Homo sapiens: one gene and its partners. The protein of the gene in region 1 interacts with the protein of each later gene in a pairwise test. Each region holds a gene or a part of one and is shown on either strand. Other genes may lie near its edges.

Region 1 (3,500 bases):
CCTTGTTCAAATTAGATGTCTGTGCCCTGCACTGAGAGTTTCCTAATGCAAATATAACCTAAAGCAAAATGATCCACAATTGCTAGAATGATCATTCATATGATCACTACAAAGCAAAGTGATTAAGAGCATAACAAACAGGATCAAAGCATGCATGTGACACTGAAGATACAATATTTTACTGAGAAAACGCTGAGTCTAGAAGCTCTCCTGGATATTGAGAATAATGTTCCAATGTGTATTAATATAAACAAAGGCATATACTCCGGCATTTCACAATTTTATTTCTCATAATTTACCTAGTTTAAGCATATAATCACGAATTTATGGCAGTAAATGACCTACAAAGGTCATCTAAGTCCATGATACCAGCAATTCTTTTATAACAGAAAAAGATAACATGTAAGAATTGAATTAATTTTCTTATGCACAAGGATTGTTCAGAGGATAAGGAACATCTTTCACTTTAAATTACTAATCTGAATGCAGACTCAGGCCAACAATAATTGAAAATGATGTGAGAAGAATTTCACCACTGTAATAACAGACAGTGTTTAAGGCATAAAAGAACAATTAAATTCAGGAATTATGGCTCAGTTCATAAACTGATATTCTAAGAAAATATCATACCATAAGACCATAATAATAACTTTTCACAATACATTTTATCCTGACTTGAATATGTACCTAAACCCTTCTTGGATAAGGCATGAGGTCTAGAATATACTTTCATAAGCTAAATTCTACAAACATGTAGAGCAAAGAAGATTAAAGCATTCACAAATAATTAATCTTGAAATCACAGAGGTAAAAAGGACATTACTATCTTACTTGTAAAGCACCAACAGTAAAATTTTATTGGATAACAGCTTTTTCTTCAGCTCAATTCTGCTGTCTTTATTTTTATTATCTAGAATGACTAGGCAAAATAGGTTAGTTTTGTTTTGCATACATGATATTTACTGCATGCTAATTTAACACACTCTAGGGTCAATCACAATATTTTTATCAGAGAGAGAACTCTCCATCCTCTCAGGAATGTCACCTCATGTCAAACTGCATATGTGAGTTACTGTCACAACTACTGGACTTCAAAATACATATACACTCAAGAGCTTAACAGACACTTTGGGAGCTTAGGCTGTGGCAGGGCTACTCTCTGTCAGCAGCTTCTCCAAAACCAGAGAGCTCAGGCTGCAACAGGCCTCAAAGCTTTTATACCTTGCAGGCCAGCATTTTCTAGCACTGAGGGGCCTTCCTTGTGGTCTCAGATCTCAGCTATGGTGGTCAAGCCAGCCTCTCCCAAGAACTGCTCATGTAAAGGTACACCTCCACCTTTAGCCTTCACTTGAACACAGAGGCCTCCTTTCATCATAATTGAGCAAAGACACTTTAATAGCTTTGGAACACATTCATAATGTGGTTAATGTACCTCATCTATTGAGTGTATTCCCTGTGAAGTCTGTCTATGTTACTCTCCCCATCTTTAAGTACTGTGAACCCAAGAAAAAATTCTCTTTGTATGGCAATAAACACTGTGATTCATGAAATCATACTTTGATCATCTTATTTCTACCATATGTGACAAAAATCCAAGTACAAACATGCACATTTATAAAGGGAGATATAAGTTAGGTGTGGAATGAGAAAACTGGAGATCACTTAGACAAAAATCATTCATTTAAGTAACATTTATTGAATGCCTACTATGTAACAGATCCTGTGCAAGGCACAGAGGACACAACAAGGAACAAATCAGGCAAAAATTCATGGCTTCATGATGCTTACATTCATTTCAGTAACTATTAGACATCTTACTATTTTCAATAGCCATTAGACGTCTTAACTCTCCTGAATGCTTAGCCATCTATCTCAGAAACTTCTAGGCTTTGAGCAGTTAAAAATAATAAGTAATTTTATATTCAATTTAAAATTAATGTCAAAATTCAAAGTTGAAAATAGAAATGGTAACAGAGAAGGCTGATAGATTGAAAATAGCCATTAGCAAATAAATTTTTTTAAAAAGTGGGGAGGGAAACTAAGGCCCAAAGAGGTGAAGTGCCTTCCCAAGGATATAGCTACTTAGCAGAAAGTCGGGCTACAGTTCACATCTTCTAGGTCTGTTCCAGAAACTTTTCACTATATCATAGAATCTACTGGGGTGGGGGTGGGGGAACTATAATGAAAAGCCTAAATAATAAGGAAAATCTCTCTTAATGTTTACTTACTGTATTATAGAACTGTCAACCAAAACGGAAGGAATTTAAGCAAAGTGGAGACTCCATCAAATTTTAGAAAATACTTATGCTAAAGGCACTCTGCATTCGACTCTAAAGATGCACTTAATGAGCTAATAGATACTCTGTCTTCTCTAATATCTGAAATTCCCGGAATACTTTTATTCAAAGGCCTATTTAATATGAACTGGTGGTTATAGTTCATATCCTAGCACAAAAACACTCTCAACACAATACCACTATCTCAATTTGTATTTTCTGCCTGACTCCAAAGAAAGGCTAGCACATCAGCTAATAGGCTTAACTACATCATCATGCCCCCAGCAGGTAAAGGAAAATGGTTAAGGTGCTAGGAGTTTTTACACAAAAGGCAACATGAAGATGTATGCTTCCAGTAGTCTGCTTGTCACAAGGAATCTAATATTAGCTCTCTTGAACTGTTAGTCATCTATCTTGGATGCTTCTAAGCTTTAAGCAGTTAAAAATAATAATTAATTTTATATTCAATTTAAAATTAATGTTAAAATTCAAAGTTGAAAACAGAAATGGTAAGAGAAGGCTGATAGATTTAAAAATTCATTTCTCACCACATGATCATGACACTTATTCACCTTAATGTCAAATAGGTATAACATTTGATTCATTTTCTAAAAAAGCTTTTCAACTCTACAAACGTCTGTTGTCAAATCTGGATCATAATCATAGTGACATCTTAACTTTACTAAAATGATTGTGAAGATAAAAATCAAAAAGGACTTGATACTTACACCACTGGAAAGGAACTAAGCATACTTTACATGAGGCGGATCAATATCCTTTCCAGAGATGATCTGCGTTATCTACCATTCTGTAGAACAAAGATAGAAAATTGAGAAACATTTATGTTAATCAAGTGCTGAATAAAAATTTTAATTATGTAACTGATGGACAGCAAGAGTTAACACTAGCTAATCATGTTAAATATTATATCTTCTGATTTGCATTCTACTGCTTTATTCACCATACACTTTGATCCCTTTCAATTCAGACACAGATCTTAACAAAAAATGGTATCTACTATTCATTGTTTAGAAGCTAAAGATCATGAAGACAACTTATTAGCTGGTTAAAACCATAGTTATAGAGGCACTGATTTCCATTAACTCTAAGATTATAAATTAGACAAAAGTTAAAAATGTTGATGTCAAAAACTCTCACATTGAAATACATATTCAGTACTGAATTATATTAAGCATGGCCAAAGTGTCCAACAATGACTAATGA
Region 2 (3,695 bases), on another chromosome or scaffold:
TCCATTTTAGGAAACTTTTCCTAAAAGGAAGTGGCAATTTTAACTAATCTCCCCTCCGCCGCTCCCAGCTGCCGCTCCAGATGCTGCTGCTGCCGCCGCGGCCACCCCACCCTCGGTCCTCCTCTCCGGAGGCCATGGACCCACCGCCCCCCAAGGCTCCCCCTTTCCCCAAGGCGGAAGGCCCCTCCTCCACTCCTTCCTCGGCGGCGGGGCCCCGACCCCCGCGGCTGGGCCGCCACCTCCTCATCGACGCCAATGGGGTCCCCTACACATACACGGTGCAGCTGGAGGAGGAGCCCCGGGGCCCGCCCCAGCGCGAGGCGCCCCCAGGAGAGCCCGGCCCTCGCAAGGGCTACAGCTGCCCGGAGTGCGCCCGTGTCTTTGCCAGCCCTCTGCGGCTGCAGAGCCACCGCGTGTCGCACTCGGACCTCAAGCCCTTCACGTGCGGCGCCTGCGGCAAGGCCTTCAAGCGCTCCAGCCACCTGTCGCGGCATCGCGCCACGCACCGCGCCCGCGCCGGGCCGCCGCACACCTGCCCGCTCTGCCCACGCCGCTTCCAGGACGCCGCGGAGCTGGCGCAGCACGTGCGCCTCCACTAAGCTCGAGACCCGGCCTGTGCTGCCCTGCCCGTCTCAGGGCCACCAAGTCTGACCCACACAGCGTCACTCACTCCCACACACACCCCCTGGCTCTGCTGAGGTTACTGCCTTACCCTGGGCCTCAGTTTCCCCACCTTCCAAAGGGAGGAGCATCATTCCTTCCTTACCCCCTTTCTAGCTGTGTGATGTAGACCAAAGTCGTTGCCCCTCCCTGGGCCTGGGAACCAGTCGGAACTGGGTTCCAGTCCAGCTGTGCTGTGTGAGCCTGTGCAAGTGACATGACCTCTCTAAACCTTGGTTTTCTGCTCTCTGGAGCGGTGAACCGGTGGTTGTCTGCGGGGAAGAGATGATAAAGAGCACGGGCACGGTCTGGTTCATTTCTGTATCTACCCCCCTTCCGCCCACGCCCCCGACCCTTTGCTCAATAAACATTCCGCACTCCATTTTCAGGCTCTTCCTTGCGTGTGCGTGCACGTTGGGTGCTGGGGGGTGGAGACCGGATCTTCCTCGCTTGGGTACTTTCCTCTCGGTGTGTGTTTCTGGCCGGAGCCGTTTCGCGACGGCCCGGGCGCCCCGCCCCAACCTTCCTTCCCTAGACCCTCTTCTCTCCCTTCGGCTTCTCTCTTTCGGCCGGCGCCGCCAGTTCCTGGGGCACACCCAGAGGTCCCCTTCTCGCCGCCGCCTGCAACTGCGAGGGTAGCCCGGGGCCGCTTGGAGTCGCCCGGACCTGAGAGGCTGCTGCACTGGGTACGGGGGCCGGGAGGAGGAAGGGGGCTGGGGGCGGGCGGCGGGAGGGGCTGGACCGCGTGGAGGGTACCTGGGCCGGGGCGGGAGTGGGGCAGACGCCGGAGGGGGCTGTTCTGGAGCTTGGAGGGGGCGAGAACTTACACAGAAAGGCCCAGAAAGCGAGGGCTGCGGCCCCGGGGGTGGAACCCCGGAGAGCGCTGGGACCTAGAACGAGCCTGGTGGAGGCCGGGCGAGGACTAGAGAGAACCTGAGGTGGGTGGACGGGTGGGAGCACGGAGTTGTTCAGACACGTGGCTGGAGAGAGGGCCGGAACCTGGGGGTCCTAACGTCGGAGCCCCTGTGAATAGGCTTGGCTTGTATGGAGGGGGTCAGGAAAGGCTTGAGTATGTAGCATAGGCCAACACGCAGACCCTGGAAAGGGCTAGAAGGAGGGGAGGGAGAGGCCTGGAGGCCTGCGGGGTGGGGCACCCAGTGACCTGGGAGGGCACAAAGAGGAAGGTTAGAGCGAGGTCCAGGTTGTGCAGAGGAGGTCAAGAGATCCTGTGAGTACAGTGTATGGTGGAGCACCGAGGCTAGGAGAGGTTTTCCAAGGAGGAAGACCCTGGGGACCTTTTAGGGGGCCACAGACTCCAGCTGTGAGCGGGACTGGAAAAGAGGGACTGAGGGGCAGCAGGATGCAGAGGTCCTGGGCCGGGTATAGGGAGGGAAAAGGATGGAGCCTGTGGTGCTGAGCTGCCCTCTTCTATATAACCTTCTTATCCCATCTCCCATCCACCAGGCCTCAGCCAGCCCTCCGGATGCTGGTGCTGCCATCCCCCTGCCCTCAGCCTCTGGCATTTTCCTCCGTTGAGACCATGGAGGGCCCTCCCCGTCGGACTTGCCGCTCCCCAGAACCTGGACCTTCCTCCTCCATCGGATCTCCCCAGGCTTCATCTCCTCCAAGGCCCAACCACTACCTGCTTATTGACACTCAGGGTGTCCCCTACACAGTGCTGGTGGACGAGGAGTCACAGAGGGAGCCAGGGGCCAGTGGGGCTCCAGGCCAGAAAAAGTGCTACAGCTGCCCCGTGTGCTCAAGGGTCTTCGAGTACATGTCCTACCTTCAGCGACACAGCATCACCCACTCGGAGGTAAAGCCCTTCGAGTGTGACATCTGTGGGAAGGCATTCAAGCGCGCCAGCCACTTGGCACGGCACCATTCCATTCACCTGGCGGGTGGTGGGCGGCCCCACGGCTGCCCGCTCTGCCCTCGCCGCTTCCGGGATGCGGGTGAGCTGGCCCAGCACAGCCGGGTGCACTCTGGGGAACGCCCGTTTCAGTGTCCACACTGCCCTCGCCGCTTTATGGAGCAGAACACACTGCAGAAACACACGCGGTGGAAGCATCCATGAGCCGGGCTGCCGGGTGCCCCAGGTACCACAGGACTTTGCAGGGAGCCTGGACTCCTGTCCAGACACCTGGTGAGAGCCTGAGGCTGGTGTTCAGGGCCCTGGACACAGACACAGAGCAGCCGCATCTCAAAGGCAGAGCCCTGCCTGAAGGAGGAATCCGTGAGTAATCTTCAGGTCCTCCGTGTTCTGGAGCTGAGATGGGAATGAGCCCCTACACAGAATGGAGTCCTCTAGCCTAAAGATATCAGCTGTTCCATGGCAGAGCCTTGACTGGATGGAGGTGGGGAGTGTGGTGTGTAAAGTCTCTGGCCTCATAAAAGGTGGCTGTGGGTCGTCAGGAATCTGCGCCATCTTCCTGGGGCTTCTGCGCTGTTGTTGGGGAAGGGACCCCAGTCCTGCCTTCCACCCCCCAACCAGGCCTGAGACTGATCAAACAATAAACACGTTTCCCACTCTGAGCACTCGAGGTTTGTTTTTAGAGACAGCATCTCAGACCCTCTTTGGTGGCCGTCTAGCAGGGAGACCTCAGCTTGCCTGGCTGGGGAATGGGAAGGTTGGCCTGCCTTGGGGTTATCCCCTCCTCAGCTCCTGAAGACCTGGGTCATCTGGGAAGAATGTTTTTAACTGAAACAATTTTAAAACCACAATCTCCTGTTACAAACACATTTTATATGGCAATAGAGTATACAGATAAGCAAAATACACGTGAACCAAGTTTCCTTTTTTTTTTTTTGAGACGGAGTTTCACTCTTTTTGCCCAGGCTGGAGTCCAATGGCACAATCTCGGATCACCGCAATGCCTCCTGGGTTCAAGCGATTCTCCTGCCTCAGCCTCCCTAGTAGCTGGGATTACAAGCGTGTGCCACCATGCCCAGCTAATTTTGTATTTTTAGTAGAGACGGGGTTTCTCCATGTTGGTCAGGCTGTTCTTGAACTCCCAACCTCAGGTGATTCACCT
Region 3 (3,500 bases), on another chromosome or scaffold:
GCTGTGTTTCACTGAACATTAAAACGAGTGGCGTCAACAATTCTGAGTGCAGACAGGGTGCTGGATGGGGTGGGCAGGATCTGGCTAGACTGGAAAGAAGCCTGGGCCAGGGTACTAGTCTAAATAGTATGAGCAGAAGCTGGTGTCAGAAATGACTACACGGTGTGCACCAGTGACCAAGGATCACTGTCAGGAGTCAGGAGGCCAAGGCAACAGGAGCTATGAAATCCAGGCAGGGGACCTGTGGAGCCTCTGGAAGTTTTTAGCAGAATGACATGCTGAAAGTACTAAGAAAATACACCTGGGAATGATGAGGAGGGTGGGCTAGAGGCAGGAGGACCTCTAACAGGCTATGCACAAGGCCTGGACCAGGAGGTGGCAGGAGGCAGACGGAGAAGGATAAGGTAATAGGACAGGGCCTGAGAGGCATGGGGACCGGAAAGAAGTGTGTTACAAGAGGATTAGACAATAGCGATTAAAGGAAAAGGCAGAGACAGGAGTGTGATGAAAGGTTCCACCCAGGGTGATGTCAACAGAAGTACTGAAACAGCTCCAGGGTGTACTTCCAGACCCTCTTCTCAGCAGTTACTACACCAATCCCACCCACCCAGGGTGATGTCAACGGAAGTACTGAAACAGCTCCAGGGTGTACTTCCAGATCCTCTTCTCAGCAGTTACTCCACCGATCCCACCCCTACCCTTCCCCAGTGACTTAAATCCCGGACCCCACTCCAGATAGGATCGATGAGTCACTGCTTATTGGCATCACAGCTGGATTTCCCATGCCCACCTGCTGAAACCCAGAATAACATGGGGCATGACATGTTAATGACAACATCACCCAGCCCCTGTCCAGCCAGGCACAACAATCACAGTGACACCTCCCATTCCCTCAGCTGTCACATTCACCTGGCAGTCCAGTTCCGTCCGTGTGGACCCCTCAGCATCCTGCCTCCCACTGTGGACCACGGCTTTGTTTTTCTTAAAAAATTACTGTGTTCATTGTAAAAGAATCAAATATTGAAAATACAAAGAATATTAAAACTGCTCCACTATTCTCATCTCTTGAGACAACCAGTTAACAATGGCGAATATCTTTACAGACAAATCTGTTTATTTGCGGTCTTACTGTGTGAGGTCATCCAATGCATGCCGTTTGTCACATCAGTAAAGCCACACCACCATTTTAAAACCCTGTGCTGTGTACCATTGTGTGTACTGCCCCAAATTTACCTATCTAATCCCCTCCTGGGACATTCAGGTGGCTGTTAAGCTTGTTAAGTTATAAACAATGCTGCCTATGATGAATATCCTTAGGCAAACATCTTTTCACAATTGTGCAGTTTATGTTTTGGTAAGTATTGCAAAAGTTCCTTCCAGGGGGTTCCCAAATTATATTCCCACCAACAATAAATAAAGATGTGCATTTCCTCATGTACTTGCCAATCTTGGCAAAAAAGGGACACATGTCCATGATAACTGTGGATAGCATGGTTTGACACCTGTGTACTTGGCATTCCTATATGGTCTTCTCAGCTGTTTCCTGTCCTGTGTTCACACCTCTGCTGTGGCTCTGACCACGCCATACTGTTTCATAGTAGATGGCACGTAGACTCTGTAAGGGCATGTTATGGTGAGGGGCCCCCAGGTCTCAGGAAGATGGGAAGACCCCCAGGTCTCAACGTTAATGGATGGTCTCAACACACAGTTGAAGAGATTTGGGAAGCTTCAACTTCAAGCCACAATGAGGCTGTGAACAGAACTGTGACTTACTGAACTTTATCATTTGTTCCCTGACAGGGCCATCTACCTGTGAGTAGGAACCCTCAGGGCAGAATCAGTGTTTATGGAACACCATCCAGGAACAGGGACACTGGCGGGGTGGGACTGTGCTGTGGGGTCAGAGGTCACTCACCAGGCTTCTCTGTGACCTGGGCTAATTCCCTTGACTTGTTCCCAGCTCACCATGCAATCTTCTGATCACTAACTTGGCTTTCGGGTCACTAATGTGAGGAAGGAGGTGCTGTGGGCAACAGAAAGGTGTAATCCCTCTATTGAGTTGATATATCCTCTGGTTTATCTGTCCTGTGAACTCATTTGGCTTGATTGGGTCCCTGTAAACCTGACCAGTGCCAGGTATGGGGACAAGATGTGAGCAGAAGGGCCTGAGATGTGGTGACCTGGCAGGTACTGCTTGTCTGCCTGACACTTTGCCTCCATGTCAAAATGTGTTCACCTCCCTCACTGGGGATGCACTCCTAGGAAAGGGAACATCTCTAATTTGCCTTTGACTTCTCCAGTGCTTGGTGCAGGACATCTAACCCAGAGAGTTTGTGCCTAAAGATCTAAGAGATGAATGACAGCTCATCTCTAAGAGATGAAGTCTTGGTTTCCAGCTGAGCATGGCCCTGAGAGTAGGACTGGCACTTCTCACTCTGAATGCCCAGGGAGCAGGGAAATGGCACGCCAATGCCCTTCACCAACATTCAAGCAGATTCTCCATGCTGATGCTAGGGACAGATGGGTCATAGTTGCTGCTCTTGAAGAACCCCAATTTTTTGATAGGTTCAATTTCTTTTCATATTTCTAAGTCATGCAAACCACAGAGGCCCGTCTGTCTCCTTTTTAACTCATCACACATCTTCCACTTTCTGTTCTGCTTCTCAAAGTTGACAGGCTGAGAAGAGTTTGCTGGAATTATAGTGGGGGAGGTCTTCTGTTCCTTTTCATCCCCACTTCAAGTCCTACTGCTACTCACAAAGCCCAGAAACCTCACTCCCCCTTATGCTCAGGCAACAGAACCAAGGGGAAGTGCCTCTTCTGGCACTGCTCAGCATGACCAAGCCAGCTCCACGCTCCTCCACCACCGCTGTCTCCCTAGGGAACTCAGCACAGCGCCACCCACTATTTGCAGGCACATGTGCACCTGTGGAAATCCAGAGCTCTGGCTGCATCTCTCCCCCGAATTCTCCAGACCTGGAAATCTAATGATCTACCCCACACCTGCACATGGATGTCAAATAGACACCAACCAGTCCACAATCTAACTCCTGATCTGTTCTTCTTAGTCTTCCCTAGCTTTTCCTCCTCACAGTGGCTTTTGCCTCCTCTTTCAACTCCCACATCCAATCATGAGCGAATCACATGAATTCTTCCCTGGACTATCTCCAGAACTGGACCACCTGACACCACCTCTGCTGCTACTGTGCTGTTCCGAGCCCCACTACTGCACAGCCTCCTGATGGGTCTCTCTGCCTCCACCCTGGCCTCGCCCCCACCTCACAGGGTGGCTAGAGTGACCCTATTACAACCCTAAGTCATGCCATGTCACTCATCTCAGTAAAGCCATCTCCCTCAGAATAAAATCCAATCTTTACTGTGGCCTTCAAAGTACTTCAGCCCGAGTGCACCCTACAACTGTTGAGGGGTACTTTAAAAAACACCAATTCCCAGGCTCTGCCCAGGTGAAGTCAATCAGAATCTTGGCAGCTGGGACAAGG
Region 4 (3,500 bases), on another chromosome or scaffold:
AAAAAAAGGCAGAAACAACAGAATACATATACAGAAACAGAATACAGTTGACCTTTGAATAACAATAACATATAGTTGAATATTGAATAACAATAACATATCCAATAACAAAAACCTGTGTTAGTCAAAGGTCAACTGTATCTTGTCAACTGGTTTGAACTGTGCAGGTCCACTTATACGCATATTTTTTTTTCAACCAAATGCAGATCAAAAATATGGTATTTGCAGGACGTGAAACCCACATATACAGAGGGCCAACTTTTCCTATACATGGGTTCTGCAGGGCCAACTTCAGGACTTGAGTACACATGATTTTCCTGTTGGGAGGGTGGATCCTAGAACCAATCCCCCAGGTACACCAAGGGGCAACTGTATATATACTACACAGGTTCCATTTATATAAAGTTCAAAAACAGGCAATACTAATCTGTTAAAGTTAGGATAGTAGGTCGCTTTTGGAAGAATGAGGTGAGGTTAGCCACTGGGGAGGGGAATATTTAGAGTGCTGGTAATGTTCTCTTTCTTGACCTGCACGATTATTATTTTGAGAAAATTCATCCAGCTATAATTTCATTATCTGTGTACTTCCTATGTGTATGCTATATATCAAAAGAAGTTTGGTTTTTTATTATAAAAAATATTATCTTACACAGAGATGGGGTCTCACCATGTTGCCCAGGCTGGTCTTGAACTCCTGGCTCAAGTGATGCTCCCACCATGGCCTCCCAAAGTGATGGGATTACAGCCTTGAGCCACCTCACCAGGCAAGAAGTTTGTTTATGCTAGCAGCAGCATCATCTTGTTTTAGTTACTGTAACTTTTTAACAATTTCTGTAAAAACAGACTAACGGCCCAGAGTCCAGAACCAAAGCACAGATGAGTGATGGCATCCAAACCAGTGAAGAAAAAAATTTGCATGAAAGGTGATGGAACAATTTATTATTCTTTGAGGAAAAACCATGCATCTTGGTCACCACTTCACACTGTATACAAAATCAACTCCAGGTGGATTAAAACCTTAAATGAGAAAAGGTAAAAAAAAAACAAAAACAAAAAACAAAAAAACTACGTCTTATACTTTTACAATAATGGAAAATATCTTCGAGAACTCTGTTGAAAAATTTCTTCAACAAGATTCAAAAGCACTATCCATAAAGAAAAGCCTGATAAATGCAATCACATAAAAATTAAGAACTTCTACTCATCAAAAAACGCATAAGGCTGGATGCAGTTGCTCATGCCTATAATCCCAGCACTTTGGGAGACCAAGGTGGGCAGATCACCTGAGGTCAGGAGTTCGAGACCAGCTTGACCAACATGGTGAAACCCCGTCTCTATTAAAAATACAAATATTAGCCAGGCATGGTGGCGGGTACCTGTAATCCCAGCTACTCAGAAGTCTGAGACAGGAGAATCTCTTGAACCTTGGGGGTGGAGGGTGCAGTAAACTGAGATCACGCCACTGCACTCCAGCCAGGGCTACAGAGTGAGACTCCATCTCAAAAAATAAAAATAAAAATGATTTAAAAGTGAGCCCAATTGAAAGGAGAAATTTGCACCACATGCATCCAACTGTGAAACTATTAAAAATCAGTATGAAATAATTTTTTTAAAAAACTAGTACAAACATGGGCAAAAGACATGAATAGGAATGTGAGAAAAGGGAAGAATGGCTAATCAGTATAGTAAAAGATGCTCAAACTCATTAGCAAAGCAAATGAAAACTAAAAGGTGGTATTTTATACTCGTGGGTAAAAACTTTTTTTTTTGAAACAGGGTCTCACTCTGTTGCCCAAGCTGGCGTGCAATGGCATGATCACAGCTCACTTCCTAGCTTCAGGTGATCCTCCCATCTCAGCCTGCCAAGTAGCTGGGACTACAGGTGTGGGCCACTATGCCCAGCTAATTTTGTTTTGTTTTGGTAGAGATGGGGTTTCACCATTTTACCCAGGCTGGTCTCAAACTCCTGGTCTCAAGCCATCCACCCACCATGGCCTCCCAAAGTGCTAGGATTACAGGCGTGAGCTACCATGCCCAACCGATAAAACCTTTTGAAGTGTGACAAAAGTAGATGTTAGCAAGAAAGCTGAGTAATGAAAACTTCTGCATTGCTGGAGAGAACGAAGACTGACACCACCTTTTTTGGAAGATAATCTGACATTATCCAATATTGGTGAATATGCACACATTCTTCTTAAATACCAGCAATTCTATTCCTAGAATCTCTACAGTGAAACATACAAATATTCACACTAAGTGAGATCAACAAAGATTACAATATCAGTGCAGGTCAGGGTTTTTCTGCAAGACAAGTTTGGTGAAACTTTACAGTTTTTTTCTCTTCATTTTCAAACATTTGGATTTAAGAAATATGGATGGCCAGACACAGTAGCTCACACCTGTGATCCCAGCACTTTGGGAGGCCAAGGCGGGTGGATCACCTGAAGTCAGGAGTTCAAGACCAGCCTGGCCAACATGGTGAAAACTAATAATACAAAAAAATTAGCCGGGCATGGTGCACACCTGTAATCCCGGCTACTCGGGAGGCTGAGGCAGTAAAATTGCTTGAACCTGGGAGGAGGAGGTTGCGGTGAGTCAAGATCGCGCCACTGCACTCCAGCCTGGGCAAGAAGAGCAAAACTCCGTCTCAAAAAATAAATAAATAAATAAATAAATTTTACATATGTATATATGTTAAAAGTATAAAGACAGACCAGGAATGATGAATCCAAAATTCAGTACAATGGCTACTGTCATTGGTGAAGGTGGACATGGTTGCAGTGGATGTGATCAGGAAAGTGCATCCTGCTAAAGTTACACTAATGAATTAGTAAACTGGTTGGTAATTATATGTATGTTTGTTTACATACGCCTTACCTGTTATAATCTTTTGTACTTATCAAATAACTTAAATATTTAAAATACAAAAATTAGTATGGAATACCTAAATACAAACCCACTGTTAGAGTCACCAATTCAGGGAAGTGTCTCAAGAACTCTAGAGAAATTAGCATCAGAGAAATTCAAGGTATTTCCCCATAAATCAAGGACAGGTTGCTATTTAAAAAGAAAGAAAAATGAAAGATGATAGAAGAACTCTTATAAATTAAAGATAACTACTGAAATAAATTTTATAGAAAAGTTCAAAGACAAAATCAAAGAAACCTTTCAGAATGTAAACAAATCCCGTAGATCGTAGACTACAATTGTAGATTACAATCTTCTACAGGAGAATAACCATCAGATCTGCAATGGACCTCTGATTAGCACACCAAGTATTTTAGATTCCCACAGCAAAGTTTTCAAAATTCTGAGGAATTTATAATTCCACATGTAAACTTTCAATCAGGAACAAAGACAAGCCATTTTCAACATTCGAGAACTCAGAAAGTTTATCACCAGCATATCCTTCCAGAAACAACTATTGAAGGCTGTATTCCTGTAAAATAAAAAAGGTATCTAAAAGAGAAAAACATGGGATCCAAATAACAATAGATCTA
Region 5 (3,500 bases), 9.6 Mb from region 1:
GAAAAAATGAGCTAACTGAGCACAGCTGAAAATAGGAATTGCCCTTTTTTAAAGACCACCTTCATTGCTGTCAATCAAATATACTGTCCTTCAAAATGCTGTGGGACAGGGACATCTACAAGTCATTTCCATGCTACCTTTGGAAGAGACGGTGAACAGGAGTTAGCTGCAAAAACATCCCTGCTGAGGCTCTGTCGCCAACGTGCGGACAGACAAGCTCCAGCACTTAGAGCCGTGTGCACCTTTGTCAGCTGTTCTCACAATTAAGAGACTCCTATTTCCTGACTACATTTCTTGCTTTGTTGTCGGTAAGAGAAGAATCATTACCCAAACGATCACTTTGGAGATCATGGTCTTTACTGTAATTATTTCCACTTACTCCACTGAGTTCCACGTTGGTCCCCACTTCCCGAAACGGAACTTTCCAGTAGAGTAAGTAGAAATAATTACAGCAAAGAAAAACATCCGCCTTTGTGTTTCCCCTGAGGTCATCACTCCTGTTTAAAGACAACCTTGAAGATAACTACGACTCCAAGCAGGAGAAGAGTCTTATTTTTCATTTCTCCATAATCTTAGAGAAGTATTTCAAATTATTTTTAGTTTTTATTTCAGAATGCAAGGCTTTAGACAATTCTGTTTCTTTCAATCAACATTTGATTTTAATACTTCTTTCTAAATACTAGGATGTTAAAAATAAGATCAATAACCAGAAAAAAATTTAGAATCAGCAAACATAAGGGATGGGGGTTTAATAGCATCATTGCACTTTTCTACAGTTTTTCCAGAACAAATGGTTCTTCCTAATTCTTCCACAGCCTAGCAGACAATGGTATCTCCACCACCAAATAGACAATTCATCTAAAAAAGGAGGCTTTCCAAATTCTTAAAAGAGGAACTTGGCTATGTATCCGTGAATGAGAATTACCATCAAACCTTTAATCCTTGGCAGTGAAAATGTACTCCCACTGATCACACGAAAGTCAGCAAGCCTTTGGGTTCCTACTTTGATAATCTTTGACTAAGGGTGATCTTGGGCATCAGTGAAACCCCACTTGTTTCCTCTTCTCCCCTCACTGGCTCACCGGCTGCCTCTGGGGGGGAGGGGGGCGGGGGAGGGAAAGGGGAGAGTGGGGTAGGGACACGGGAAGTTCTCTCATTCCATGCACAGCTTTACTATTTCACTGGGTATACTAAGTATAACAGCTATGGACATTTGACAGCTAAAAAAGGGAGGAATGCCCGCCCAGATCACCCAGGAAGAAGGCTTAGACATGAACCTGAGCTACTTACACAGGCTGCCAGTTGGCCCTCCACACCCCATGGCAGCTCATACAATTCCCCTTTAATTTCAACGCTTATTCAAAGCCCATTGCAATGTTTATGCATAAACCCATCTGTGTGGCTTCTTACCTAAGAGGTTTTTGAGGATATGCCCCTGAGTTTAGGAACTGAGGCTTGGGTGGAAGGGGAGGTCTTTCTGGTTTCTGCGGAACACGCAAGGGGCTTTGCAGCCTCTCACCGCCTCTTCCTTTCTGGGCCCCGAGGGATAACCTCTTGTAGTCTTCTCGTGCTTGTTTAGCCAAGGAGCGTCTCTTCTCATCAGCTGCTTTGGATTTTCGCACTGGAAAAACAACGGGGTCGGAGAAAACCCTCATCAGCCCACAGAGCAGGTGAGAAGGCTCAGCATTCATTGCACAACGGGCAGCAGCGCAGGTTCTCAGCAGTTTGTTGTCTGCTTATAATAAGGAACAATCATTATCAACACCTATGATCCAGGCCATTAGGGCTTGCCCAGCGTTCGCTGCAGGATTCCTCTCTTCATACAGGACTGGGGGTTTTCTGAGAGGGAGAGAAAAGGAAGAGGAGGAAGAAGGGATGAGAGAGAAGTAGAGAAAGTGTGCAAGAATTTCCTGCAGTTGGCAAGACCAAGTGAGGATCCCCCGCCTGAGCATGGGTTCAAGCTGGCAGGGGTGCTGAGTAATAAGAGGCAATTGTCACGCCCTGCATGACTTATGTTCAGATGCAGTGTGCTTGACTCACTAGCAGAGATCAGGACTACTCAGTGGCATGGGGCTGTGCATAGGGTGAAGGAGCAGAGAGCAGGACAGAATGAGAAGCAACCTGACAGACAAAAAATTAAAGGGATGCTTAACCACAGGTAATTGTAGGACACATTAGTACACAAAAAAGTACCCCAAGTCTGCCTTTTAATATTACAGTCACTAGTGACTTAATGAGAGAAATAAATCCTGAGAAATGCATCATAAGGCAACTGTAACACAAGAGTATTTGTGTGTCTAAATACCCCCAACATAAGGCCGGGCACAGTGGCTCATACCTGTAATACCTGCACTTTGAGAGGCCAAGGTCGGTGGGTCACCTGAGGTCAGGAGCTTGAGACTAGCCTGGCCAACATGGTGAAACCCCAACTCTACTACAAATACAAAAAATTAGCTGAGCATGGTGGCAGGCGCCTGTAATCCTAGCTACTGGGGAGGCTGAGGCGGGAGAATCCCTTGAAACCAGGAGGCGGAGGTTGCAGTGAACTGAGATCACACCATCGCACTCCAGCCTGGGTGACAAGAGCGAAACTCCATCTCAAAAAAATAAAAATAATCAATACCCCCAACATAGCAAAGGTATAGTAAAAATATGGTATAGAGGACAAAAAAAAATGGTGCCTCTACATAAGGCACTTACCATGAATGGAGCTTGCAGGACTGGAAGTTGCTCTGGGATGAGTCAGTGAGTGAGTGCTCAGTGAATGTTAAGACCTAGGACATTACTACACACTGATGTTGACTTTGTAAACACTTTACACTTAGGCTACACTACATTTATAAAATTTATTTTAAAAATGTATGCAACCCATTATTTTGGGGTTTTATTATTATTTTTTGGTTTTCTGTATGTGTGTGTCTGTGTTTTTTTTGTTTTGTTTTGTTTTGTTTTTGAGACTCAGTCTTGCTACATTGCCCAGGCTGAAGTGCAGTGGTACGATCTCGGCTCACTGCAACCTCCGCCTCCCTGGTTCAAGCAATTCTCCTGCCTCAGCCTCCTGAGTAGCTGGGACTACAGGTGTACGCCACCACAACCAGCTAATTTTTGTATTTTTAGTAGAGATGGAGTTTCACCATGTTGGCCAGGCTGGTCTTGAACTCATGACCTGAAGTGATCCACCCACCTTGGCCTCCCAAAAGGCTGGGATTACAGGAGTGAGACACAGTGCCTGGCCTAAAAACTATATGCGACCCATCGTTGACCAAAACATCATACAGCGCATGACTACTTTGTAAAACAGAATTTTTTGTTATAGCAATGAGACTCAAATGCAGAATGTAAAAATGATTTTTATTGACTATATTTACACTTCAGGCAGTATTGGTCAAATCCTGTTATACTTGACTTCAAAGAGACACCCAAAATATTCCCTTATGCTAGGATTTCAGTGCATAGTACAAAGAGCCTACTGGATCTTGCAAATATTTTCATTTCACAGT
Region 6 (3,500 bases), on another chromosome or scaffold:
CTAAGTTTATTCCAACATATATAATGATTAAGAAGAATATGTGTACATGGTTTTCTTTTTAAGGAAAAAGAGCGGTTGAAACAAGAAAAACGTGATGAGAAAAGATTAAATAAAGAGCGTAAACTAGAGCAGCGAAGATTAGAATTAGAAATGGCAAAGGAACTAAAGAAGCCTAATGAAGACATGTGCTTAGCAGACCAAAAGGTAATTTATACGTCATGTACACCATTTCATTCATAAGTTTAATTTTTCCAGTTTTCTTACCTGATTTCTTTGCCAGAGCTGCTATTGTGAAAGCCTTTCATTTTTAACTATAGCAGTGAATTTCCAACTCTAGGTCAATTTGCCTTTCCTAGATAGCTAGAAGTAAACCTCTCTGGAGCTCTTGTGCTGGTAATGGCGGTTTTTTTGTTTGTTTGTTTGGTTGGTTGGTTGGTTGGTTGGTTGGTTGGTTGTTTTCAGACAGGGTCTTACTCTGTCATTTAGGCTGGAGAGAGGGCAGTGGCAGGATTATAGCTCACTGAAGCCTCAACTTCTCGTTCCCAGGCTCAAGTGGTCCTCTCACCTCAGTCTTCTGAGTTGCTGGGACCACAGGCGCTTGCCACCATGCCTGGCTAGTTTTTTGGGTTTTTGTTATTTTAATTTTTTGTAGCGGCAGACTCTTATGTTGTCCTGGCTGGTCTTGAACTCCTGGGCTCAAGTGATACAGCCACCTCAGCCTCCCAAAGTTCTGGGATTCCAGGCACAGAAAAATCTCAACTCCTCCCCACATCCCTATGGATATTTAAATAAATGAGGATTTATAATCTGTGACCTCCTTCAGTGCTTTAGGTGGCAAACCTTTATTGAACATGTTTACTACATGCTAGGACTGTGCTAAGCACTTATTTGAATTTTCTCATTTAATCCTCAATACAATCTTGTGGAGTTAGTATTTCTTCCCATTTATACATGAGAAAACTGAGACACAAAGAGGTTAAGGAACTTGCCCAAGATTACACAACTAATAAATGGCGATTTGGATTCAAACTCCAGTTTGTTAAACTCCAGAGCCTATACTGTTTATCATCCTGAAAGCCAAGAAACTGTGTCCAACCAAAGCACCTCATATGTGTTTTGTCTTCCATAGTGCTTCACAGACATGTAATGTTGCTGAAATACATAAAAGTATAAATTTAGAAACATTGCTGTAATCTTGGCAACCAGCATAATTTCATATACTTTTGAGTAAAAATCAATGATGTTTTGACTATAGTTAAGAAGATGGTACTTCTAGAAAAATATCAATAATGCATTTCATCTCTATATTATTATACTTAATTAGTAGGATATGTATTTACTTATATGCAATATTCAAATGATTTGCAAATAATGATTATCTCTTGATTTATGTAAGCTCTTTTTTTATTTTATTTTATTATTATTATACTTTAAGTTTTAGGGTACATGTGCACAATGTGCAGGTTAGTTACATATGTATACATGTGCCCTGCTGGTGTGCTGCACCCATTAACTCAATTATGTAAGCTCTTTTCTAAAGTGCTTAAAGAAAACTTTTAGTACTCTAGAATGGATTGAACTATATTAATATTCTATTTATTTACTTAGCATAAATGCTTCTAAATAAAAATGAGAGTATACTTACTAGTTGTAGTCATTTGGATATTTAAATTTTCCTAAGCAGAGAATGGGTATATAAATTAGTTAACACATTTAATAAGCTCATAGTGATCAAGCTTTTTAAATCCTAAGTGAGCTTCATTTTCTTGTATCTTTTATTTTCATTTAAATTCATATGTACTATATCAAATATGTAAGTCCATTTTAAGCCATATTTTTAATAGCTCAGCTTTGCTACATAAATTTTTAGAATTACATAGAAATGTATATGTTTCCTGTGGTTCAAGAAAAAGGGAGAATGAGAATTAACTGGCTTTCAAGAAGAATATAAAATATTTGTATGAGATGAGCTATTATCTATAGTTTTGTGTTTCCACACAGTATTAACAGAAAAAGTCTTCAATTGGTTACCTCAATAAATGCAGAGTGGAGAAATATTTTTGAACAAGGACCAATTCAGATAAATAGAAATATTTATGTCACTTTTTTTCCAATTAAAATTTAAAGTACTTTTTTAGGCTCTCATTAACAGGCAAAATGTTTTTAATTCAGATTACCTATTTATTGAAATTTTAAAATGTTGATGACAACTGGTACTGCAATTAAGTCATTAAAATGTTAATATGTGAGCATATTTGAGAAATAACAACAGAGATAGCTAATTTTAATACTGAAGCTAATACTTGCCTAAATACAGGGAAACCTAAAGACCTTTAGTTGCATTATAACTGGGTTTATGTACAGGGTCATGGATTCTAGTTATGTGGACCTAGTTATTTATCTGCATTCATTAGCCATAGATGGTACCACTTTCTCCAACCATAGAGCCCACAGATGCATGCTGTTTGTTTCTAAGCTACAAAAAAAGTGTGATTTTTAAATGTCATCATCATTAGAAGAAATTGGTGCACATGCCCCTATAAGTATGTCCATGGTAAAGTACTTTTGAAATGTTTATATTTTATTTAATTTTTGCTCCAGTTATATAATCCATGTTTTGTTAATATGGATATGTCAGTTGATTGAATATGCAAGTTGATTAAAATTAATGTCTCTTTTGCAAAGATCTAAGTTCATAATTGAGTTCAACCAAAATTTATTAATGGTTGCTTACTTGTATGAAGATACTTCAAGACACTATGCTTAGTTCCATGGGGGTTACAGAAATGCCCCCAGAGAATTTAGCATCCCAAAGGAAGCTACTGGTACAATACAAGAGGGGAAAAAAGGTAGCAGCTTATTTTACTTTAGAAGATACGAAATCATGGCTTTTAAAAAATTAAGCTGTTTTTATTTTATTTGTATTTCATTTTATTTTCAGCCTTTGCCAGAGTTGCCTCGTATTCCAGGACTTGTTCTCTCTGGAAGTACATTTTCAGACTGTCTCATGGTGGTGCAGTTCTTACGAAACTTTGGTAAAGTTTTGGGCTTTGATGTGAATATTGATGTTCCAAACCTGAGTGTTCTTCAAGAGGGATTGCTAAATATAGGGGACAGCATGGGTGAAGTACAAGACTTGCTTGTGAGGCTCCTCTCAGCTGCTGTATGTGATCCAGGTCTAATAACAGGATACAAGGTAAAAAAAAACAAAATATAAAATGTTTTAAATTTGTACTGTCAGTGCATTGGTAGATAGCTTTAGCATATTAGCAGAAGATTATATAGATTGATCTAATTTTTCCACATAATGTCTCACAAAGTTAACTGTAGATTTGTGTCAGGTTACACTTCATACAAAGAAAACCTGGTTATAAAGCTTAAGGAATGTAGACCATTCTCAAGTTATTCTTTTTTCCTCTAGCTGTAGGCAAAGACCAAGGTGATTTAAGGAAATCCTTAAGCGATATTCATCAACAACAGAATTCATAATTCATAAGGCA
Region 7 (4,247 bases), on another chromosome or scaffold:
CTGCAACTTCTGCCTCCTGGGTTCAAGCAATTCTCATGCCTCATCCTCCCAGGTAGCTGGGATTACAGGCATGTACCACCATGCCTGGCTAATTTTTGTATTTTTAGTAGAGATGGGGCTTCACCATTTTGCCCAGGCTGGTTTTAAACCCCTGACCTCAGGTGATCCACCTGCCTCAGCCTCCCAAAGTGCTGGGATTACAGGTGTGAGCCACCGCACCCAAATGGGGGAGTTTTAAGAGAAGCAGGCTAATGCAAATAGGCCAGACAACTAGTTCGGGAGGGAGGAGAGAAAGCACTGTGATTAAGGACAAGCTTTTCCGGGGCTTGCACCCATCCTGGCCATGTGGGTGGACCTTGAGTGGGTGAATTAGCCTCTGGGCCTCAGTCTCCTCATCTATATTATGGGGCTGGTCGGCACAGCCGGGATTCATGCCTGATGAAATGGGACGGTGCCCTCGCAGCCCCTCCCCTGGGCCCCCCGCACACGTGGCACACAGGTCTGGTCCGGGTTAGCTTTATTGGAGCCTCCTAGCAGGCCAGGTGTTTCAGGCACCAGTAGTGCTGCAGGCACGGGGGCCTGTGGTGTGGCCAGCTGCAGGTGATCTCGGTGGTGGACTCCGAAGTGTACTCCAGAGAGGTCCCGGAATGGCAGGGGACCAGCTCGGGCACTGAGGCGCTGCTGGCAGGCTGTTTCGACGATTCCTTCTGGCGCTGTCCGCTGGTCTTGGGGGCTGCGTCCTCCGGCTTGCCAGAGGACTTGCTGGGGGGCTGCGTGGGGATGTTGCTGCTGCTGGGAGACTGGACCATGGGTGAGACCGGGCTGGAGGTGACGTTGGGTGGCTGCAGGGGCCCCGAGGACGGGAGGGCTGACTGGGAGGGGCTGGAGGAAGTACCAGGCGGCTGGGTGTGTTGCCGAGACCAGTGGGAGCTGCCCTGTGCCCGACGCTGGCCCTGGGCCCTGCCGGACAGGCGGGAGCCACAGCCAGAGCCAGAGGGCAGCTGGCCCTGGGATCCAGAGCTGGGGGTGGCCGAGGACTGGGACTGGGACTTGCCCGAGGTGGCATTTAAGGAGACCCCCAGGGCCTTGCCTGGACCCGAGGGACTGGCAGGGGCTGCTGTTGGGGGATGCGCTGAAGACTCTGTGGAGGCCTGGGAGCCTGGCGCGGCCCCCTCCTCACCAGCCAGGAGGTCCTTGTGAGGCTCAGGGGGCTGCTTCACTTGTCCTTCGGCTGCGGGGTCTGGCTTGGCTTGACTGCAGAGAGAGGGGCGGGTGGGGGAGGGCCGTGAGGCAGGCCTGGGCTCCCCGGAGCTGCTCGCAGGCGGGACTGAGGCTACTGGCTATGAGCATGACAAGTCGAGGGGCCGGGCAGCCACCCTCAGCAGAGATGGTGTCAACCACACAGAGGCTTTCATGGTCACCCATGCACAGATGGGTGCACACAGAGCACACGCATGTGCAGTCATGCACACGCACGCACTCACACGTGCACACATGGTCACACGCACACACATATACTCACATGCACACGTGGGCACACACACACATATGCACACGTGAGAAAACATGCTCACTCCCTTGCTCACTCACACACCAAACATACACTTGAGCCCATGCACACGCACCCTCTTGCACATGACAAAACATGCACACACAATAATACATGTGCACACAGCAAACATACGCTCAAACACACGCGCGCGCGCGCGCACACACACACACACACAGCTCCTATCTCCCCACAGCGGTTACGTACGGTCAGCTTCCAGGGGAGTGGAGGGCCCGGCCACAGCCACCGGGGTGATGCCTGCCCGGCTACGGGCCAGGACCTGCAAGACTGGTTCCCGGAAGCGTGAGAGAGAGAGGCGGACAGTGAGAGGGGGCGGCCAAAGTCAGAAAGGGAGGCAAGGTGGAGAGAGACAGGTCCAGACCCGGGAGATGGCCTGAGGCAGCCAGGCGCCTGCGAGCACCCACCGTTCCTGGTTATTCCGGCCGCCGCGTCCAGGGCTCGCCCGCTGAGGTCGTTCATGATTCTGTCTACGGCCCCGTGGTGCCTTAGGAACAGCGGACGCACGACGCGCTGATACAGCATGAGAGCCCCGTTCCAGGGCCTGGGAGCCATGCAGAACAACAGGAAGGCGCACTGCAGGGCGGGGCAGGAGTTACACGCGGGCCCACCCAGCTCTGTGCCCCTGGTGGGGAGAGGGGCTGCACCACTCCACCAGATGCCCATCCTGGACAGGCACTGGGTCTCCACCATCAGACACCCTTTAGGGTGGGCCCGCCACCATCAGACGTCCTATTGGGATGGGCCTGGGTTTTCGCCATCAGATACCCTCTAGAGTGAGCCCTCCACCATCAGACGTCCTACTGGGACAGGCCTGGGTCTCCACCGTCAGACACACTTTAGGGGTGGGCCCTGTGCCATCAGACATATTATTGGAATAAGCCTGGGTCTCCACCATCAGACACCCTTTAAGTGAGCCCTCCACCATCAGACATCCTATTTGAGCAGGCTTGGGTCTCCACCATCAGACACCCTTCAGGGTGGGCCCTCCACCATCAGACATCCTGTAGGGTGAGCCCTCCACCATCGGACATCCTATTGGAGCAGGCTTGGGTCTCCACCATCAGACACCCTTCAGGGTGGGCCCTCCACCATCAGCCCCCGGACAGGGCTCGTTTCCCCAGGGAAGGGACTGAGTCTTCCCCTCACATCCCCCATCTCCTGGTATCCTCCGGACTTTCTGGCCCCAGCGCCTCCCAGGAATCCCCAAGCCCCATGCGCTCCACGGCTGTGCCCGCCCTGGCAGGGCCCACCTTGCCCACGTAGTAGAAAGGGAACCAGGACAGGAGTAGATCGCTGAAGAACTCGGCCAGCCCAAACAGGGCGTACACCACCCAGTAGGTGAGCCACACAGTGTCGTCGTCCTTGCTTGGGCTCTCGATAGCTTTGATTCTGCAGGGAGGGTGCAGCAGGGTCAGGGGCTGCCAGGGAGCCCCCAGAACCCCCCGCGTGGGCAGCCAGCCGTGCACTCACGAGGCATATGCGGGGTACACAAATCCGATGAGATTGCACAGCAGAGACGCTCCGTAGCCGAACAGCAGATACAGGCTTAGCAGAGTGACGGCTCCTGCCGGAGAGAGGCGGTGGTGTGCCAGGGCTGGGGACCCGCTGAGCCCCCACGACGGTACCCAGGCCGCCTTTCAGTCGACGAAGACTGCAACCGTCACCTCCTCCCAGGAGCCGCCTCCAGGATATGTCCACTGCCCCTGATGTGCCTGTACATCCCCCATCGTGCCTCTAGGCCCTGAGCCTTGTGCCTGTAACTGGTCAACGTGTCCATGTCCCCCACCGGGGTTGAGAGCTCCCCAAGGGCAGGCAGGAGCTCGACGCTGGGCAGTGGGGGTGGGTGCGGAATAGCTGCCCAGTGAAGTGTTTGCAGCCGGGCGCGGTGGCTCACACCTGTAACCCCAGCACTTTGGGAGGCCGAGGCAGGTGGATCACGAGGTCAGGAGATGGAGACCATCCTGGCTAACACGGTGAAACCCCATCTCTACTAAAAATACAAAAGATTAGCCAGGCATGGCGGTGTGTGCCTGTAGTCCCAGCTGCTGGGGAGGCTGAGGCAGGAGAATGGCGTAAACCCAGGAGGCGGAGCTTGCAGTGAGCCAAGATCGCGCCGTTGCACTCCAGCCTGGGTGAGGCTCCGTCTCAAAAAAAAAAAAGTGTAATCTGCAACGATAGCCATCTCATTCCAGGCCCTTTGGGAGGCACTGGGAAAACAGGCCAGTGTTTCAATATAAGGGATGGCAGAAACCTGCAAGGGAGGCCAGGCTGTCATGAAGACTTGATTCTAGAGCTGAGAAAGGCAACTGTTTCATCTGTTATCTTAGCGCAGGGTTTCTCTGCCTTGGCACTGCTGATGTTCAGGGCCGGGTCATTCTTGGTTGTTTTCGGTGGAGAGGGGGAAGTGGCTGTCCTGGACACTGCAGGGTGCTGAGCAGTGTCCCTGGCCTCTGCCCACTCCATGCCATCAGCCCCCAAGTCATGACGACTACAGGTATCTCCAGACATCACCCAGTGTCCCCTGGGGCGGGGTGGGGGGCAGGGCTACCCCCTTTGAGAACCTCCTGTCTTGGAGGCAGCAAACCCCAGCATCTCGATCCCCTGGGTGGAGGAGAGCCCTTTGGTCGGGTGTGCACTCACCAGCCGGCACTGAGTGAGGCTGTGGCTGCATGGAGCC

The links.
Region 2: the proteins of HMBOX1 (region 1) and ZNF581 interact in binary tests that used the Homo sapiens proteins (3 or more experiments, as listed by UniProt).
Region 3: the proteins of HMBOX1 (region 1) and ZBTB24 interact in binary tests that used the Homo sapiens proteins (3 or more experiments, as listed by UniProt).
Region 4: the proteins of HMBOX1 (region 1) and PIAS2 interact in binary tests that used the Homo sapiens proteins (3 or more experiments, as listed by UniProt).
Region 5: the proteins of HMBOX1 (region 1) and SH2D4A interact in binary tests that used the Homo sapiens proteins (3 or more experiments, as listed by UniProt).
Region 6: the proteins of HMBOX1 (region 1) and BAZ2B interact in binary tests that used the Homo sapiens proteins (3 or more experiments, as listed by UniProt).
Region 7: the proteins of HMBOX1 (region 1) and REEP6 interact in binary tests that used the Homo sapiens proteins (3 or more experiments, as listed by UniProt).

The regions. Positions count from the first base shown.
Region 1 is NC_000008.11:28,963,395-28,966,894, reverse strand, and holds part of HMBOX1 (homeobox-containing protein 1), read right to left. Parts: intron 3,085-3,500; 5' UTR 3,028-3,084; coding exon 3,005-3,027; intron 1-3,004. UniProt on the Homo sapiens protein: Binds directly to 5'-TTAGGG-3' repeats in telomeric DNA. Associates with the telomerase complex at sites of active telomere processing and positively regulates telomere elongation.
Region 2 is NC_000019.10:55,642,429-55,646,123, forward strand, and holds ZNF581 (zinc finger protein 581), read left to right. Parts: upstream 1-1,220; 5' UTR 1,221-1,346; intron 1,347-2,124; 5' UTR 2,125-2,143; coding exon 2,144-2,737; 3' UTR 2,738-3,195; downstream 3,196-3,695. Other genes in the region: ZNF580 (zinc finger protein 580), read left to right, coding at 81-599. UniProt on the Homo sapiens protein: May be involved in transcriptional regulation.
Region 3 is NC_000006.12:109,469,720-109,473,219, forward strand, and holds part of ZBTB24 (zinc finger and BTB domain-containing protein 24), read right to left. Parts: intron 1-3,500. UniProt on the Homo sapiens protein: May be involved in BMP2-induced transcription.
Region 4 is NC_000018.10:46,907,508-46,911,007, forward strand, and holds part of PIAS2 (E3 SUMO-protein ligase PIAS2), read right to left. Parts: intron 1-3,500. UniProt on the Homo sapiens protein: Functions as an E3-type small ubiquitin-like modifier (SUMO) ligase, stabilizing the interaction between UBE2I and the substrate, and as a SUMO-tethering factor.
Region 5 is NC_000008.11:19,362,193-19,365,692, reverse strand, and holds part of SH2D4A (SH2 domain-containing protein 4A), read right to left. Parts: intron 1,622-3,500; coding exon 1,411-1,621; intron 1-1,410. UniProt on the Homo sapiens protein: Inhibits estrogen-induced cell proliferation by competing with PLCG for binding to ESR1, blocking the effect of estrogen on PLCG and repressing estrogen-induced proliferation. May play a role in T-cell development and function.
Region 6 is NC_000002.12:159,386,049-159,389,548, reverse strand, and holds part of BAZ2B (bromodomain adjacent to zinc finger domain protein 2B), read left to right. Parts: intron 1-63; coding exon 64-204; intron 205-2,941; coding exon 2,942-3,196; intron 3,197-3,500. UniProt on the Homo sapiens protein: Regulatory subunit of the ATP-dependent BRF-1 and BRF-5 ISWI chromatin remodeling complexes, which form ordered nucleosome arrays on chromatin and facilitate access to DNA during DNA-templated processes such as DNA replication, transcription, and repair.
Region 7 is NC_000019.10:1,494,181-1,498,427, reverse strand, and holds the end of REEP6 (receptor expression-enhancing protein 6), read right to left. Parts: intron 3,135-4,247; coding exon 3,041-3,134; intron 2,960-3,040; coding exon 2,821-2,959; intron 2,144-2,820; coding exon 1,975-2,143; intron 1,838-1,974; coding exon of another isoform or gene 1,757-1,837; intron 1,255-1,756; coding exon 1,217-1,254; 3' UTR 501-1,216; downstream 1-500. UniProt on the Homo sapiens protein: Required for correct function and survival of retinal photoreceptors. Required for retinal development.